Regions from separate parts of the Homo sapiens genome. Here region 2 is linked to region 1. A link means that fine-mapping ties the variant in region 1 to the expression of a gene that starts in the linked region. Tissue or cell type: whole blood. Region 1 holds a variant in brackets; the other region holds the start of a gene. All regions are shown on one strand. Distances are from middle to middle.

Region 1 (8,103 bases):
GTGGAGGGGGTGAGTAGGTGTGGATGTGGGTCTGTGTGTACGTGGGTGAGTGGGTGGGGGGTGGGAGGCCTGGGTATGTGTGGGTGTGGGGAGGATGAGTGGGTGGGTGAGTGGGTGGGTGTCAGGTCTGTGGGGGGAAGAGTGTGTGTGGGTCTGTGTGTGTGTGGGTGGGGCGTGGGGGAGCTGGGTATGTTTGGGTACCCCTCCTCTCCTGGGAAGTATGTGTGATCCATTTTACAGATGAGAACACTCAGGATCCGAGAGGCCACAGTTCATAAGGTAGAGGTGGGTCTGTGTCTCAGAAGCCAGTGCCCTAACACACTGCCACCAGCTGAGGTGTCCAGGCCGATTCCCGGGAGCACCCTGAGCTCTTGGCCACCACCCTCTGTGAGTGACAGCCTCCCTTCTCCTCCCCAGCTGTCCTCGCTCAGCCGGCTCCTGGGCCTCATGAGGCCATCATCTCTCAGGCAATACCTGGACTCTGTGCCCTTGCCACCCTGCCAGGAGCAACAGCCAAAGGCTAGTGCCGAGCTAGACCACAAGGTGAGTGAGCACCCAGCACCCGCCTGCCTCCACCACGGTGCCACCACCACAGGTAGCAGGGAAAGGCAGGGCTGTCCACATTGCATGGCCTGCGGGTCCTTCCAGAACCCCAGGGCCATGCCAGGGCAGAGACCAACAGGCTGCCTCCCTGTGTTGAGCAGAGGTGCTCAGCATCTCACCTGTAATTAGTGCTGTTACCCGTGCCGCAGGCGCTGGGGACGCCCTGTGCGCAGGTGTAGGGGCCAAATGTCTGCCTGTCCCTGCTTGTGTGCCTTTTGTTGATCTGGGGTTGTCAGCCTTACAGCATGGTTTAGGGAGGATGCAGGAGCTGGATGCCAGGGAGGGGATGGGAGCACATCAGGATAAGCGCAGGGTTGTCTCGACGTGCAGGGCATCCCTTCTTCTGTAGGCAGAGCTGGGCCCAGCCTCCCTGTTCATTTTCACTGTGGTTGTCACTGAGTCTGAGTCCTTGGCCTGTCCCCAGTTCTTCCTAATTGACTTTCCAGACATTGCCCAGCTTTCCTGAAAGCCAAGTTCTGGTGGGAGTCAGGAGCAACAAGGTGCCCCAGGGCCTGCAGGTTGTGGAGTTTGGAACAGTGAGGCCTATGAGTCCCTGGGTGAATGTCAGAGCAGGGATGTGGTGGGTGTGAGGGCTGCAGAGTGGGCATCCCGGGCTCAGCTTCCTGGGGAGCAGGGCTTAAACCTCGATGTACTCTGCTGCCCCTGGGGACTCGGGAATGAAGAATGGAGATAGGGATCGTTATAATTGGGGAAGATGGTAATTCCAGAAACTCACTCGGAGGCTGGATGTTGATACAGAAGTCCAACCTTTGGGCATCACTCTGCAAATCAGATAAATGAATTAATTACTTAATGAACACAAATGAACCATTAAAGAGATATGCTAATCCCCAGGTGCACGCTCCTCTTCTGGAACATGTGGGGAAGGTTGTCTTTCAGTTGTGCCTAATATTAGTGCGTTTATGAGGCTGCTGCCTCCCAGGAGAGCGTGAGCTGTCTGCATGCCCCTTCTCTTGTGCCAAGTATTTCCCCAGAAACTGGAGCTGGTTATGGGCTGGTTATGGGGCCTCTAGAGAGGAGGTGGGGGTCAGTCCTGGGGTGGTCTGTCTAAACAGAACTCAGGGAGGCCTGGGCAGGGAGCAAGGAACAAGAAGGCGAGTGGTGAGAGAGAGGAAAGAGTGTCACGTCTGGTCTGGCTAAGCGGAGAGTGTGGCCTGCAGGCACCTTGGGGGCCAGTCCTGGGCCTCACCTAGCAGAGGTGTGATTCCTGCCAGGCTCACTCTGGTACAGAGGCTATCCAGGTGGCAGAAGACATTCTTTCAACAGCTGGGGAAGAGGGACAGTGAGCAGGCTGAGGATGCCTTTTCTTTAGAGGACTATTCTCACACACCTAAAGGAGGTTTGAAAGCCTCCCCCTGGTTGGCCGCCATATTGGAAATGACCTGTTTGGCCTGAAAACATGGAGGCACCGTGCAGCTCGGCAGAGCCCCAAAGGGGTAGGGTGCACTGGTCCAGGGCAGTGGAGAGGCAGGCGAGTCCCAGGCAGCTCTCAGAAGCCTTCACTGCAGCCCGAGACCACCTTAGACCCCCTCTGCTGCGCTCCCCTACACCTCTGCCTCTGAGTGAGGGAGCCCCAGGCCAAGGAGGGTACATGGGCACAGAAGTGTGAAACAGGCCCCTGGGCTGGGTTCTGTCCCCTGGGCTGGGCACTGTTCTGACTGGGAGGGGCCAGGTGGGGCAGGTGACTGGGCTCCACTCCCACCCCGGCCGGATGACTCCTCATTAGGCCTCAGCATGTTTCATCTTCAAAGAGGTTAGATGGGCCACTCACCAGCCAAAAACAACAGCGGCGGCATCCACCCTGTTTTATAAGGAGTGGTGGTCTGAGCCGTGGCTGAGCCTTTCATCCCCAGAGCTCAAAGTCTTTGCCTTTTCGTTTCCCTTCAGTGCCATGGGGAAACTGAGGCCAGAGTAGGGTTGACCTGAGGCGGCCCAGCCTGGAGGAAATGCCTACTTTCCCAGCGTTGGGGCTGCTGAGCTGAGCCTCTGCCTTTTGACGCCTACCCATCCCCCAGGCCCTCTCACTCCTGTCTGGGAGATTTCCTGCCCTGTGCGGCTGGGTCACAGCCCTCCTCCAGCCCTGCAAATAAACACTTCTGCCCAGCTCCTTCCCCACCTCCTCTGGCTGCCTCAGGCCTTGGCCCAGCCTCTCCCTCTGGGAAGAGGCTGAGAGAGCTGCTGTTGGTGTCCAGGGCACAACTTTCTCTCCTCACTGATCCCTTGGCAAGTAAAGTTGTCCCTTTGCTTGCCCCCTGTCCAGCTAGACTGTGGGCACATGCAGTGTCTCTAGCACTGCGTCCCACATTTGGCACTAGGTGAACGAATGAATCCAGTTTTAATTCCTTTGTCCTTCTCTGAACTCCCTTCTTCCATTCTGTTCTGGCATTCGCTGTTCGCTCTCCTGCCCCCATTCTGGAAACCTGCTGCCTCCTGTGTGCCATCTGACCAGCCTCTGCATCGTGGTCCCCTTGTCTCTTAAGGTCTTTGTATCATTAAGGCCACAAGAGCTTATAGCCTGGCCTTCTCCTGCAGGAGGCTCTGGACTAAAGAAGTATTACCTGCATGTGGCAGAACCAATCCCAGCACATCGTTTGTAATTATAAGCTAGTGAGGTCCTGCCTGGGAAAGCACCAAGTACTTCAGCAAAGGAAGCCATGAGCTCCTGCTGCAGCTGTGCATGGGGGTCAGGAACTGGAGTGAATCAGGGGCAACATAGATGCCTGCACTGGCCGTGTGTCCTGGCTTTGACCACAGTCCTAGCTGAGCAGGCAGAGCTTATATGGACTATAAGAGCTTCTGTGGACTATCCCGCTTAGTGAGCTGATAACGTTTTTAGCATTTTGAAGAGCTTCTGGATAAAGAAAACAAAGCTGAGCCGCTTTTGGTTATCTATGGCCCTGTGCATGCCTGGTTTGATCTGGGCTTTATTCTCAGAGAAGAGTAAACATCTGGTTTGGAGTGATGCTTGGGGGTCTGGTACAGCCATGTGAGAGGCAGAGGGCTTATTTGGCTGACAGTGGTAGAGGGTGTTTTCCTGTGGGAGAGTTAACACAGGAGAGTTTAATACTTAGAGTTGGCCTCTAAGTACTCCCTTTGGCCCATGGATACCAATTCGCCCCAGTTGCCTTCCCAGGCAATCAAGGGAGACTGTTCTTTTGGCCGCAGGCAGAAAAACATTGCATAACTTGACTCAATTTGCCACTGTCTCTCCAAGCTACCACCTGAGCCCACCAACCCAGAACCAGGGTCTTCTTGGGGCAGTTTATTTCCTCGTAGCTGACTTGTATAAACCATATCTGGCCAGATGTTTTCTGGTGTGTTCTATCCAGCCTCAGGGCTCAGGGTCATGGAGGTCATGGCCTATTCACTCTTTTTTTTAAACAGGGCCTGTCTCACTCTATTGCTCAGGCTGGAATGCAGTGGCGCCATCAAGGCTCACTGCAGCCTCGCCTTCTCAGGCTCAATAGATCCTCCTACCTCAGCGTCCCAAGTAGCTGGGACAGGCACATGCTACCACACCGGGCTAATTATTTATTTATTTATATTGCTTGATTGATTGATTGATTGAGACGGAGTCTTGCTCTGTCGCCTAGGCTGGAGTGCAGTGACTGACTGGATCTCGGCTCACTGCAACCTCCACCTCCCAGGTTCAAGCGATTCTCGTGCCTGAGACTCCCAAGTAGCTGGGATTACAGGCGCGTGCCACCATGCCTGGCTAATTTTTGTATTTTTAGTAGAGACGGGTTTTGCCATGTTGGCCAGGCTGGTCTCGAACTCATGACCTCAGGTGATCTGCCCACCTCGGCCTCCCAAAGTGCTAGGATTACAGGTGTGAGCCACCACGCCCAGCCAATTTTTTTTTTTTTTTAATAAAGATGGGGTTTTGTCACGTTGCCCAGGCTGGTCACAAACTCCTGAGCTCAAGCAGTCCTCCCACCTCAGCCTCCCAAAGTGCTGGGATTACAGGCATGAGCCATCTCAACGGGCCCCAATTCAATTCCATCGAGATTATTGATATTTTGGCTGTCAAAACCTGCTATTGCATATTATACTCCTCGTTACCACACTTCCTTATCATTTCTTGCTTTTCTTTTTGCTCTACTGATGCTCTATTTTTTTTTGTATTTATTTATTTATTTATTTATTTATTTATTTATTTATTTATTT[G/ATTTG]AGACAGAGTCTTGCTCTGTCACCCAGGCTGGAGTGCAATGGCACAATCTTGGTTCACTGCAACTTCTGCCTCCCAGGTTCAAGCGATTCTCCTGCCTCAGCCTTCCAAGTAGCTGAGATTACAGGTGCCCACCATCATGCCCGGCTAATTTTTGTATTTTTGTAGAGATGGGGTTTCACCATGTTGGCCGGGCTGGTCTCAAACTCCTGACCTCAGGTGATCCACCTGCCTCGGCCTCCCACAGTGCTGGAATTACAGGTATGAGCCACCGCACCGGGCCTACTGATGTTCTATTGATGAGGTTTTTTAATTCTGTTTTTCCCCTTAGGGATTTGGGAGGCATATAGTACAAGGATCTTTATGGTGGGATGGAAGTTTTTCTCCCGGTTGGTTAAATTTGGGGACTGTGAAGTTGTTAATTATTTCCCATTGTATGGAAAGAAACTAAGGACCACAAAGGGGGATGGTCCCAGAGCTGGGGCAGAGTCAGGCACCAGGAGCCTGGTCCCCATCTCCCCAGCTGCCCTCTGGGCATGTCCTCCTCCCAGCCAGATGATGTCCCCAGTGGATAACAGCTAAGGGGCAGTCTGTGGGTTCTGCACCTGTTATGGTCCCTGCGGGGGCACCACCCAGATCAAGGCCCCCGACTGAGCGCGAGTGGCTCTAGTCAGCTTTCTCGAGGTGCACACCACTTAAGGTCCCCAGCTCATGCTCCTGAGGCCTGGGGATGTGTGGCTTGTTTATTGGAGAAGTGCATTTGTACAGAATGGAGTTGTTGGCGGGGAGGGGGGGTGTGCTCCAGGGATTGGGTGATGCTCTGGGATAAACTCAGCCCAGCTGTGCCAACTCCACTGCGTTCATGCTCATTCTGAGTAGCTCTGCTCATGTTCTGCAGAGGGTGTGGCCTCTGCTGTGTGTTTGTGCATAAGTGCGTGCTGTGCACATCTCCTGTATATCCTTGTGGTGTGCCGCGTGTGTTGATAGAGTTGGCAAACAAGTTTTACTGCTTCGCTCCCGCTGCTGTAACTGCAGTTGTCTGTCCCTGTGCTGGGTGACCCTGCCAAGGGCCGCCTTAATGGGAGGTTGTGGAGAAAGGCCTGGCTCTCACTGCAGGGCTAGGCAGGGAGGGGGCCGCTGCCCTCTGGCAGCTGTGTGCTTGCCTCTGCCCTCTCTTGCTGGCATGCTCAACTCCAGCAATGGGACATGTGTTCCCCTGGGCACAGGCCACTTACCCTCTGTCCCCCTGAAAGGCAGGTGGAGCCTCTTTCTCCATTCTCGCCATGCTCTCTGCCTTCCCACCTGGAAGTGTCTGTCTCTTCCTTACTGCCCCACTGGGCTGGGGACCTTGGTCAGGCCAAGGTCAGGAGGGCTGGGAGGAAACCGACTGGTTTTGAGGAACAGAAAATGGATATTCAGAACTTGTGAGTTCCTCTCCTGTCTAATCTGTGGTTGGTTCTGTCTTACTTCCTCCAAAGTACAGAACATCAGACATCTTTAAAAATAAACCTCAAAGAGATGGCCTCTGGGAAGCTGACCCTCCAGGAGAGGGGGACCTCTACAGATCTGGGGACAGGCCAGTACTTCTGGGCATCCCAAAGCCAGGCAGGGCCCAGGCTCAGGCCAGCTTTGTTTGGGTCCCAGAAATTCTGGTTTCTTTGCAAGTGTACGAGCAGGCTTGAAGTGAGAGAGTTAAGCTGCGGAGGCAGGCTTGAAGTGAGAGAGTTAAGCTGCGGAGGCAGGCTTGCATTCTTCAGCCAGCTTTTGCTCAGGGCCTTGGCAGCACCCGGGCCTGCTCCCTGCCCCACCCCACCCAGGCCCAGTCCTCCCGGAGACCCTTCGGGGCCTCTCTCCCTAGGCAAGTGACTCATCAGCTTCCAACCTAACACTCTACCTGGGTCTCCTCATCCTTTAACTCTTCCTGGACAACGCTGTGGATTATCTTCTTCTCGTTCTGAGTTAGGAAAATAGACTCTAGTGCCTGTCACATCGTATGAAACTGCAATCCAGAGCCTCCGCCAGCTGGCCCAATGCATGGCTTCACTGCTGCACATCACACTGCGACATTTGAATCCAAGCAGTGATGCTCTCCCAGAAACGCTCTGTTCTCAACGCCGCGTCTTTGCTCCTGCTGTCCCTCCTTCCTGCGGAGCCCAGACTGTCTCTCCCGTCCTTGGATTGCTACGGGCATGGCTCAACCCGTGGCTTGTTTACATCTTGCTTCACATACTTGAACAGCTACCTTTTAGGGTCAATCCAGAGTCTCACCTCAGGCACAACCCCCATGGCTCCCCCTGAAATGCCTCACCCTGTCTAGATACAGTGGCTCAAGCCTGTAATTTCAGCACTTTCAGAGGTTGAGGCAGGAGGATCATCTGAAGCTAGGTGTTCATAGACCACCCTGCACAACATAGCGAGACCTTATTTCTGCAAACGGTTTGTTGTTGTTGTTGTTGTTGTTGTTTGAGATAGAGTCTCGCTGTGTTGCCCAGGCTGGAGTGCAGTGGCATGATCTTGGCTCACTACAAGCTCCGCCTCCTGGATTCACGCCATTCTCCTGCCTCAACCTCCCGAGTAGCTGGAACTACAGGCGCCCACCACCACGCCTGGCTAATTTTTTTGTATTTTTAGTAGAGATGGGGTTTCACCATGTTAACCAGGATGGTCTCGATCTCCTGACCTCGTGATCCGCCCGCCTCTGCCTCCCAAAGTGCTGGGATTACAGGCGTGAGCCACCGCGCCCGGCCAAAAGGTTTTTTTTTAAAAATGAGCCAGGTTTGGTGTTAACACGACACGGTGGCATACGCCTATGGTCCTAGCTACTCGGGAGGATGGCTTGAGCCCAGAAGTTCAAGGCTGCAGTGTTTGAGGCTCCCAGCTGTGCACCGAAGACGGCCAAGCACAGTGGGGAAGGTCCCTTACACGCCATCCTCAGTCTGCAGGAACAGCTCCCAGGCCGACCATGGCCTTCTCAAGTGCTCTCTGCGCATCACGTTTTCTGTCCCTTCTTCCCTGTCTTTGCCAGGAGTTTTTAGTGACGGAAACACAAACACAAATCCTGGAAAGCCCTGGGACAGTTCATCAGACTTAGAGGGACCCAAGGGCTAAACAGTGTCAAAAAACCTCAGTGTCACACCCTCCTCCTCCGGGCTCTGGCCCTTGGCGCCTTCCCAGGCAGGCTCTCCCCTCCTCCAGGCTCAACAGCCTTCCCTCAGCAGCCCTAGGCAAGTGACTCAGCTTCTAACCTAACACTCTACCTGGGTCTCCTCATCCTTTAACTCTTCCTGGACAAGAAAGAGCTTCGGCCCTCGAAT
Region 2 (8,103 bases), 780 kb before region 1:
AATAAACCACTCTTTGTTTAAGCCACTATACGTCAGGTTTTCAGGAAATTGCAGCCAGGTGCATTCTTAACCGGTACAGCAACTATGGCAACACACGGACTGCCCTCACCGGGATGATCTTGACCACTCAGTTTTATGACCCATTATTGTACAGAGGAACCAAGCCCACCCTCCTAAAGATCATAATGCTCCTGGAGACTGGCCTAGAGTAGAAGACTTCAGATCATTCACACAAGCTTTCACCCAGCCTTATCTCTGCACAGAAACAGTATGAGGTGCTGGGGGTTCAGAGAGGAAGGTGACCTGGTGTGTGGTGTGCCTCCCCGAGCCATCTAGATAGCGGGAGAGGCAGAAGTATATACAGATACAACCAGACATGACACAGCCACACAGAGCTACAAAGCAAGGGCCAGGGAAGACAGGAGGGGAAGAGCTCGGCCTGCTGGGGAAGAAGTGGGCCCTGCTGGTAAGGGTGGGTTCTGGATTCAGTTGACCACAGTATTTATTGAGACCCAAGGTCACTCCTGTTCACCGACATTCGATGTCTCTGTCAACTTCCTTCACCAACAATCTGGCGCTCATGATCTCACTCCAGCCCTGGTAGGCCAGTGTGTGACATGCAAGACACCTGGAAACAGCATCTAGGAAACACTAGCTCATGAGCTACAAGCATCATGAAAAGCCCTTGAAGCAGTCATTGAAGGGGTGCTGCAGACCAGCCATAGCCCACACCAAGATCACACATGACTCACACACTCCACCCCACGCTTCGTGCCACTGAAGAAGGATGTGGAGCAAGGAGCCCAACCCCAGCACTTCCTGGGATGTGACTGCCTGGGACCCGACAGACACAAAGGGGAAAGCTGTCCTCAGAGAGTTTTGAAGCTTGTGTAAAAATGTTCTATATGAAAATTGTACCCACAAAAACAGGGGTAGGAGCCATGGGGGCAGAAACAAAGCAGAATAGATTCTATAAGCTCGGAAATCTCTTTGTTTATAAAGCTGTTGCTAATTCACAAGGGTTACATTTTTGAAATATATTAAGTTCTCCTTCCCTTTTAAGTTCTCAGGTTTCTGGCTTCCCTGGGAAGAAGCAGTTTTACTTTCCCTTCCAGGCTTTCCTTGCTAAGTCACAGAAAACAGTCCTCACAAAGCCCACTCATCCTGCATTCTCAGTGCATTTCCAGGGCTGTTGGTCCTCGGTGGTTTCCACTCGCTTGATGTAACAGGAGCTCACCACAGAGACACCAGAAAATGAACCATCGGGGTCACCAGGACAATGAGGAGCTGCTCTCACCACCTGTCCTTGATGACCATGCTGACCTACGAGTCCCTGGAAATGCTGCCCAGAGGGAACTGCAGAGTTGAGCCGTGGCCTCCAGTGCCAAGGCCCACCTGGTGTGAGCTGGGCTGGTCAGTGGACTCTTGAGGGGTGATGGGAGCTTCCCAAACCCCCAACCAGACTCCCATCTTCAGATGCAATCACTCCCCTCCTACACATATGGGGCCGAATTCAGAGACACTGGGGTCACCTGCAAGGCCGAGAACAAGGCTTCTGCCTCCTAGACAGCAGGTGCTGAGGGCACAGCTAGGGGGACTGCGAGTGCTACCTGCATCTGCTCATGCATCCCCTCCTGGTCACCTGCCAGGCAGTTGTCTATGCAGACTGCCCGAGGCCTCTGTGATGGCTCCCGTGGGGAGGAGCAAGCCCAGCGCTCCTGACACGGACAGCTGCCGGAACGGAATAGAGGCCCATCGGGTGTCGAGAGATCTGCTCCCTTGCAAGCAGGAATGAACAGGCATCGCTCTGTGATCCAAATGCCTCCTAACCCGGGGGGAAGCATCAGCGCCACTCTCCCAGTTGCTCCTTCTCACACCTAAGGTGACCCTCAACCTTCACTCCTGATGCACAGCCCAGGCACCCTCAGGAGAGACTTCACTGGCCTTTGGACAGCTTCCTTCAGCAGACAGCTGTGGTTCAGAACCCTTTTCTCCGTCTCAGCTCTCTGCTAAAGACTTCCCTGGGCCTTAGTTTTTCTCACATGTTCAGTGGAAGGTTCAGAGTGGAGACCAATGAGTCTCAGCCTAGTGTCCCCTGGAGGGTTAGAAAACTACAAATGTGAAGGTCTATCCCCACACCCCAAAATCTGATGTGGGGTGTGTGTGGAATGTCTCAATTGTTAAAAAGAGGATTGCCCCAGGGGTTTTCATGCTCAGTTAGGGCTGAGAACCCCTGGAGGAGGTTCAGCTCGGCTTTGGGGCCTCAGAGCAGAAACTGGCGAGGCAGGTGTGTCACAGCTAGTGTGAGGTGGCATCTGACGCCGCAGTCCCACATGGCCCTGCTCTGCTCCACTGATGCTCAGTAGGGTCCTTTTGAGGTGTTTATCATCTGTTTTGCTTAATTTCCTGAGACTGTGACACGTAGACAGATTCTAGCCTCAAGGAAGAGCACCTGCCTTCCCTTCACAGCAGCGGGAACAGGTTACCTGGGAGACAATGAGGACCATGCACGCAACTCTTCAAATCCAGCCTGAGGTTCCACAGGGAGTGGGGTAACTCACCAAAGATTTTAGCCAAACCTTCATCAGGATTTTTTGAATTTGAGGAAAATTCAGGCCAGGTGCCGTGGCTCACGTCTTTAATCCCAGCACTCGGGGAGGCTGAGGTGGGAGGATCACTTGAGGTCAGGAGTTCGAGGCCAGCCTGGGAAACATAGGGAGACCCCCGACTCTACAAAAAATAAAAATTAATTACCTGGGCGTGGTGGTGTGCACCTGTGGTCCCAGCTACTCAGGAAGCTGAGGCAGGAGGATCCATTGAGGTCAGGAGTTCATGACCAGCCTGGCCAACATGATGAAATCCCATCTCTACTAAAAATTATATTTTAGTAATTACTAATTTACTAGTAACTTACTAATTTAGTAATTTATTAGTTTAGTAAATTAGCCAGGCGTGGTGGCACACGCCTGTAATCCCAGCAACTTGGGAGGCTGAGGCAGGATAATCACTTGAACCTGGGAAGCAGATGTTGCAGTGAGCCAAGATAGCGCCACTGCACTCCAGCCTGGGTGAGAGAGCGACACTCCATCTCAAAAAATTAAAAAATTAAAAATTAAATAAAATTAGATAGTGATGCTTCACAACTCTATGAGTATACTAAAAACCACTGAATTATATACTTTGTAAAGGGTAAATTTGGCCAGACATAGTGGTTCATGCCTGTAATTCCAGCACTTTGGGAGGCCAAGGTAGGAGGATCACTTGAGCCCAGGAGTTTGAGACCAGCCTGGGCAACATAGTGAGATCCCTATTTCTACAGAAATTTAAAAAATTAGCTGGGTGTGGTGGTACATGCCTGTGGTCCCAGCTACCTGGAAGGCTGAAGGGAGGATCCTTGGGCCTGGAATGTTGAGGCTGCAATTAGCTGTGATTATGCCACCGCACTCCAGCTCTGGGTGACAGAGGGAGAACCTATCTCAAAAATAATAACAATAAATAGAAAAATAAAATAAAGGGTGAATTTTATTATATATTATATCCTATAAAGTTATTACTAATTTTTTTTTTTTGAGACAGGATCCCACTCTGTTGCCCAAGCTTGAGTGCAGTGGTGTGATCACGGCTTACTGCAGCCTCGACTTTTTGGGCTCAAGTGATCATCCCACCTCAGCCTCCCTAGTAGCTGGGACCACACGCACGCATCACCATGCATGGCTAATTTTAAAATTTTTTATACAGACAGGCTCTCATGATGTTGCCTAGGCCTGTCACAAACTCCTGAGCTCAAGGAATCCTCCTGCCTTGGCCTCCTAAAGTGCTGGAGTTACAAGAGTGAGCCACTGTACCCGGCCTAACCCTGTTATTTTTTAAATAGTGCATATATATAGATAAAATCAGGAGGGTTAGTTAGCATATGGTGGTTCTTTATACTAATCTTTCTACTTTTGCATATGTTTGGAAATGCTTACAGTGAAAAGTTAAAATACGCATGTATGCCACCCTCCTATAGAGCTCTGAATTTTGAGAAAGCTTCAAAGTTAGGAAAATGTTTTCAGTTACTCCCTTCCCCCAAGTAATAAACCCTGAATGGCAGATTTGGGGAGGTATAGAAGGTAGAGTAGGTAAAGCATCTGTGTTCCCCACACTGTGGGAGGGAACGCCCTCCTCTGCCCCACTTAGGCTTGAAGTGAGGCCCATGTTTCTCTCCAGCTGCCACAGCAATATACCTTGGATCCAGCAGAGAACAAAGAAGAGGGCCATGGCTCTGCTCATCTTTGCCTTAGTCCATAAACCATCATGGAGAAGCCAGTCTTCTGATGGCCCTTCAGATTCAGCAGCTGTGGACTCCAGGGTACCACGGAACCTAACGGTCTATGAAGTCATACACGGAAGTGAGGTGGAGCCTGCTCAACCATGAGAAGGGGAAGGGCCTGTGTCTGTGGACAGTGACGGGGGCTATGCTGGTGGCCCTGAAGTGACTGCCTCTCTGCTCACTTCCCTCGGCTCCCTGGTGCCTTCCTCCATCCTGCATGTCCTGAGGGCAACAGGATATTAACCAGGACTCTGAAGTCACAAGTGATAAAACTTCAACTAAATTGGCTGAAGCGAATTGGAAGTAGCTAGAATAGCCAGAAAAATCCTATGATCAATCAAGACATCACAGCCGGGCGCAGAGGCTCACACCTGTAATCCCAGCACTTTGGAAGGCTGAGGCAGGCGGATCACCTGAGGTCAGGAGTTCCAGACCAGCCTGGCCAACATGGTGAAAGCCCGTCTCACTAACAAAGTGTTGCTGCTTATTATATTAGGTAAAATTATAACACCAAAAATAGCATAGACCAATTGATACGCCCATTTTGTTACTCACGTGTCACTATTTCCCTCTATTACATTTTATAAGTATTAAACTGTTTTCAAAGGAAAAATCTATTATAGTACCTTGTACTACACTTTTTTCTAGTTTTTTCTCCATGTTCATTTTGTAATGGGTCCCACAAATTATGTAGCCAGCCCTGCCCTTGAGCCTTCATGTTCTTACAGTGTCTGTTCCATGGCTGAGATGGCAGATATCTTTTAGGGGTAAAAACTTGCACAAAGAGTTATATAGGGCCGGGCACGGTGGCTCACACCTGTAATCCCAGCAATCTGGGAGGCCAAGGCAGGCAGATCACTTGGGGTCAGGAGTTCAAGACCAGCCTGACCAACATGGTGAAACCCCATCTCTACTAAAAATACAAAAATTAGCCAGGTGTGGTGGCGAGTACCCATAGTCCCAGCTACTTGGGAAGCTGAGGCAGGAGAATCACTTGCACCTGGGAGGTGGAAGCTGCAGTAAGCCAAGATCACACCACTACACTTCAGCCTGAGCAACCGGGCGAGACTCTGTCTCAAAAAAGAAAAAAGAAAATAATCTGCATAGAAGTGGACCCGCACAGTTCAACCCTGTGTTGTGTAGATGCTGACTGAATCGTCTCCCAGTTCTGGAGGCTGGAGGTCTGAGATCAAGACGTCAGCAGGGCTGGTTCTTTCTGAGGCTGTGAGGGAAGTCTCTGTTCCAGGACGTGGGCTCAGATGGCCATCTTCTCCTTGGGCTTGCAAGACATCTTCCCTCCATACACACCTGAGTCCACATTTCCTCTTCTAAGAACACAGGATCATATCGGATTAGGGCCTGCCCTAATGACTTCATTTTAACTTGATTTCCTCTGTAAAGACCCTATCTCCAAATACAGTCACATTCTGAGGTTCGGCGGGGTGGCTAGGACTTCAACATATGAAGAGAGGGTACCATGTAATCTGTAACAGCAGGTCATGGTAACCACAGAAATCTTATTTCTCTAAAATACCTTCCAAAACAAAAACAAAAACTAGAATAAAAAATAACAAAGAATATATAAAACAACACAAAACCCACACCCTCACCACAACCACAGGACAGAAAATGTCCAAATTCCAAATGACTGGTAAATAGAAAAATAAATGCTAACCCGGGCTCCATCTCTTTTGCTTCTGCTGCTGGCCTTTGCAAAGAGGAAACCTGGAGGTTGAAGAGGGTCTAAAATCTCCATCCTGAGTTTGCAAATGCTGAAAGCGTAACCTGGTTGATCAGTACAAATACCCAGGGGTGGAAGTGCCCTGGGGACAGGAGATTGGTGAGACTCTCTCACCAATGGACTCTCTCTCCCTCTCTAAAAAAACAATGATGTTTATTCAGGAACGGGCATTACAATGGGAATAAGTATGGATGTGTTCCAGGAGGTAAAGGAAGACATTTTTTAAAGAAAAAATGAAAAGGGTTACATAGGCTTTTATAAGACAATCATCTTTGGGGCCAGGCACGGTGGCTCACACCTGTAATCCCAGCATTTTGGGAGGCCGAGGCAGGCAGATCACAAGGTCAGGAGATCGAGATCATCCTGGCTAACACGGTGAAACCCCATCTCTACTAAAAATACAAAAAATTAGCCAGGCGTGGTGGTGGGCGCCTGTAGTCCCAGCTACTCGGGAGGCTGAGGCAGGAGAATGGCATGAACCCGGGAGGCGGAGCTTGCAGTGAGCCGAGACCGCACCACTGCACTCCAGCCTGGGTGACAGAGTGAGACTCCATCTCAAAAAAAAAAAAAAAAAAAACTTAGCTGGGCATGGTGGCGGGAACCTGTGATCCCAGCTACTAGGGAGGCTGAGCCAGGAGAATTGCCTGAACCCGACAGGTGGAGGTTGCAGTGAGCCCAGATTGCGCCACTGCACTCCAGCCTGGGCAACAGAGAAAGATTGTCTCAAAAAAAAAAAAAATAAAAAAGAGACCTGAAGGTGCCTCATATACTGTTCAGAGACATTCATGCATATAACAGTCTACACTCGGTGTCTGCTTTCTCTTTGCTTTTACTTAGCAATGTGTCCTGATATGTTTCATATGAAATTATATAGCACTCTCTCATTATTTTTAATGGCTACACAGTGATCTATTTTATGAATGTATAAACACTAGATGCAAATGAATACATACCAATGACTTCATCTGCACAAAGTCCAGAAACAGGCAATACTAATATGTTTTCAAAATTCAGGATAGAGGTCACCTCGGAGGAGGAACAGGTCAGAGACCAAGGGGTAGGAGCTGACGGGGGGGCTGTTCATGCTATTAGGAAAACAGGAGCCTAGGAGAGACAGGGTGACACCATTTTAAAATCAACTGCTTTTTTTTTTTTTTTTTTTTTTGAGACAGAGTCTGGCTCTGTCACCCAGGCTGGAGTGCAATGGTGCGATCTGGGCTCACCGCAACCTCCATCTCCCGGGCTCAAGCCAACCTCCCACCTCAGCCTCTGGAGTAGCTGGCACTACAGGCGCACAACATCATGCCCGGCTAATTTTTGTATTTTTTGTAGAGACAGGGTTTTGCCATGTTGTCCAGGCTGGTCTCAAATTCCTGGGCTCAAGCAATCCACCCACTTCAGCCTCCACAAGTACTGGGATTACACGCATGAGCTACCGTGCCCATCTCAACCCCATCTTTTTTTTTTTTTTTTTTTTTGAGACGGAGTCTCACTCTGTCGCCCAGGCTGGTGGCGCGATCTCGGCTCACTGCAACCTCCGCCTCCTGGGTTCAAGCGATTCTCCTACCCCAGCCTCCTGAGTAGCTGGGACAACAGACGCATGCCACCACGCCCAGCTACTTTTTTGTATTTTTAGTAAAGACAGGGTTTCACCGTGTTAGCCAGGATGGTCTCAATCTCCTGACCTCGTGATCTGCCCGCCTCGGCCTTCCAAAGTGCTGGGATTACAGGCATAAGCCACCGCGCCCGGCCCCAACTCCATCTTAAAACTAGCAAGGCACATTCCTTGCTAGTCCCAACCCATGGTCATAAGATGCTATGGCTAAAAGAGCAGTTTAGTAATGCCTGCAAGGACAAAATCCTACAACAACAAAATGTCCAGATGCTCCAATATTGCCTAACAATATATGATTTAAGATAGTTATAGTTACAGGACTCGATGGCTCACACCTGTAATCCCAGCACTTTGGGAGTCCAAAGTGGGTGGACTGCTTGAGCTCAGGAGTTCGAGACCAGCCTGGGCAACATAGCAAAACCCGGTCTCTACTAA

Alleles and levels. Positions count from the first base shown, and alleles are read on the strand shown. Sizes are in standard deviations (SD) of each study's normalised expression.
In carriers of allele G in region 1, the expression in whole blood of the gene that starts at base 4,348 in region 2 tends to be lower than with ATTTG alone (large effect, 0.95 SD a copy in TwinsUK).

Evidence for each region. PIP is the estimated chance that this variant, and not a neighbour inherited with it, causes the effect.
Region 2: it holds the start of C2orf92, and the variant in region 1 is fine-mapped to the expression of C2orf92 in whole blood (TwinsUK, PIP 0.95).

Annotation. Positions count from the first base shown.
Region 1 is chr2:96,886,366-96,894,468 of GRCh38, reverse strand. It overlaps FAM178B (family with sequence similarity 178 member B), which reads left to right. Exons shown (of 17, transcript NM_001122646.3): 14 at 418-543. Among named protein-coding and RNA genes, the nearest start is that of SEMA4C, 20 kb to the right of the region's middle. RefSeq lists a silencer at 3,283-3,577 and an enhancer at 6,312-6,867. The variant G/ATTTG (reference allele first, on the strand shown) is at 4,792.
Region 2 is chr2:97,665,958-97,674,060 of GRCh38, reverse strand. It overlaps C2orf92 (chromosome 2 open reading frame 92), which reads right to left and starts at 4,348. Exons shown (of 8, transcript NM_001351368.2): 1 at 4,227-4,348. The coding sequence starts at 4,272.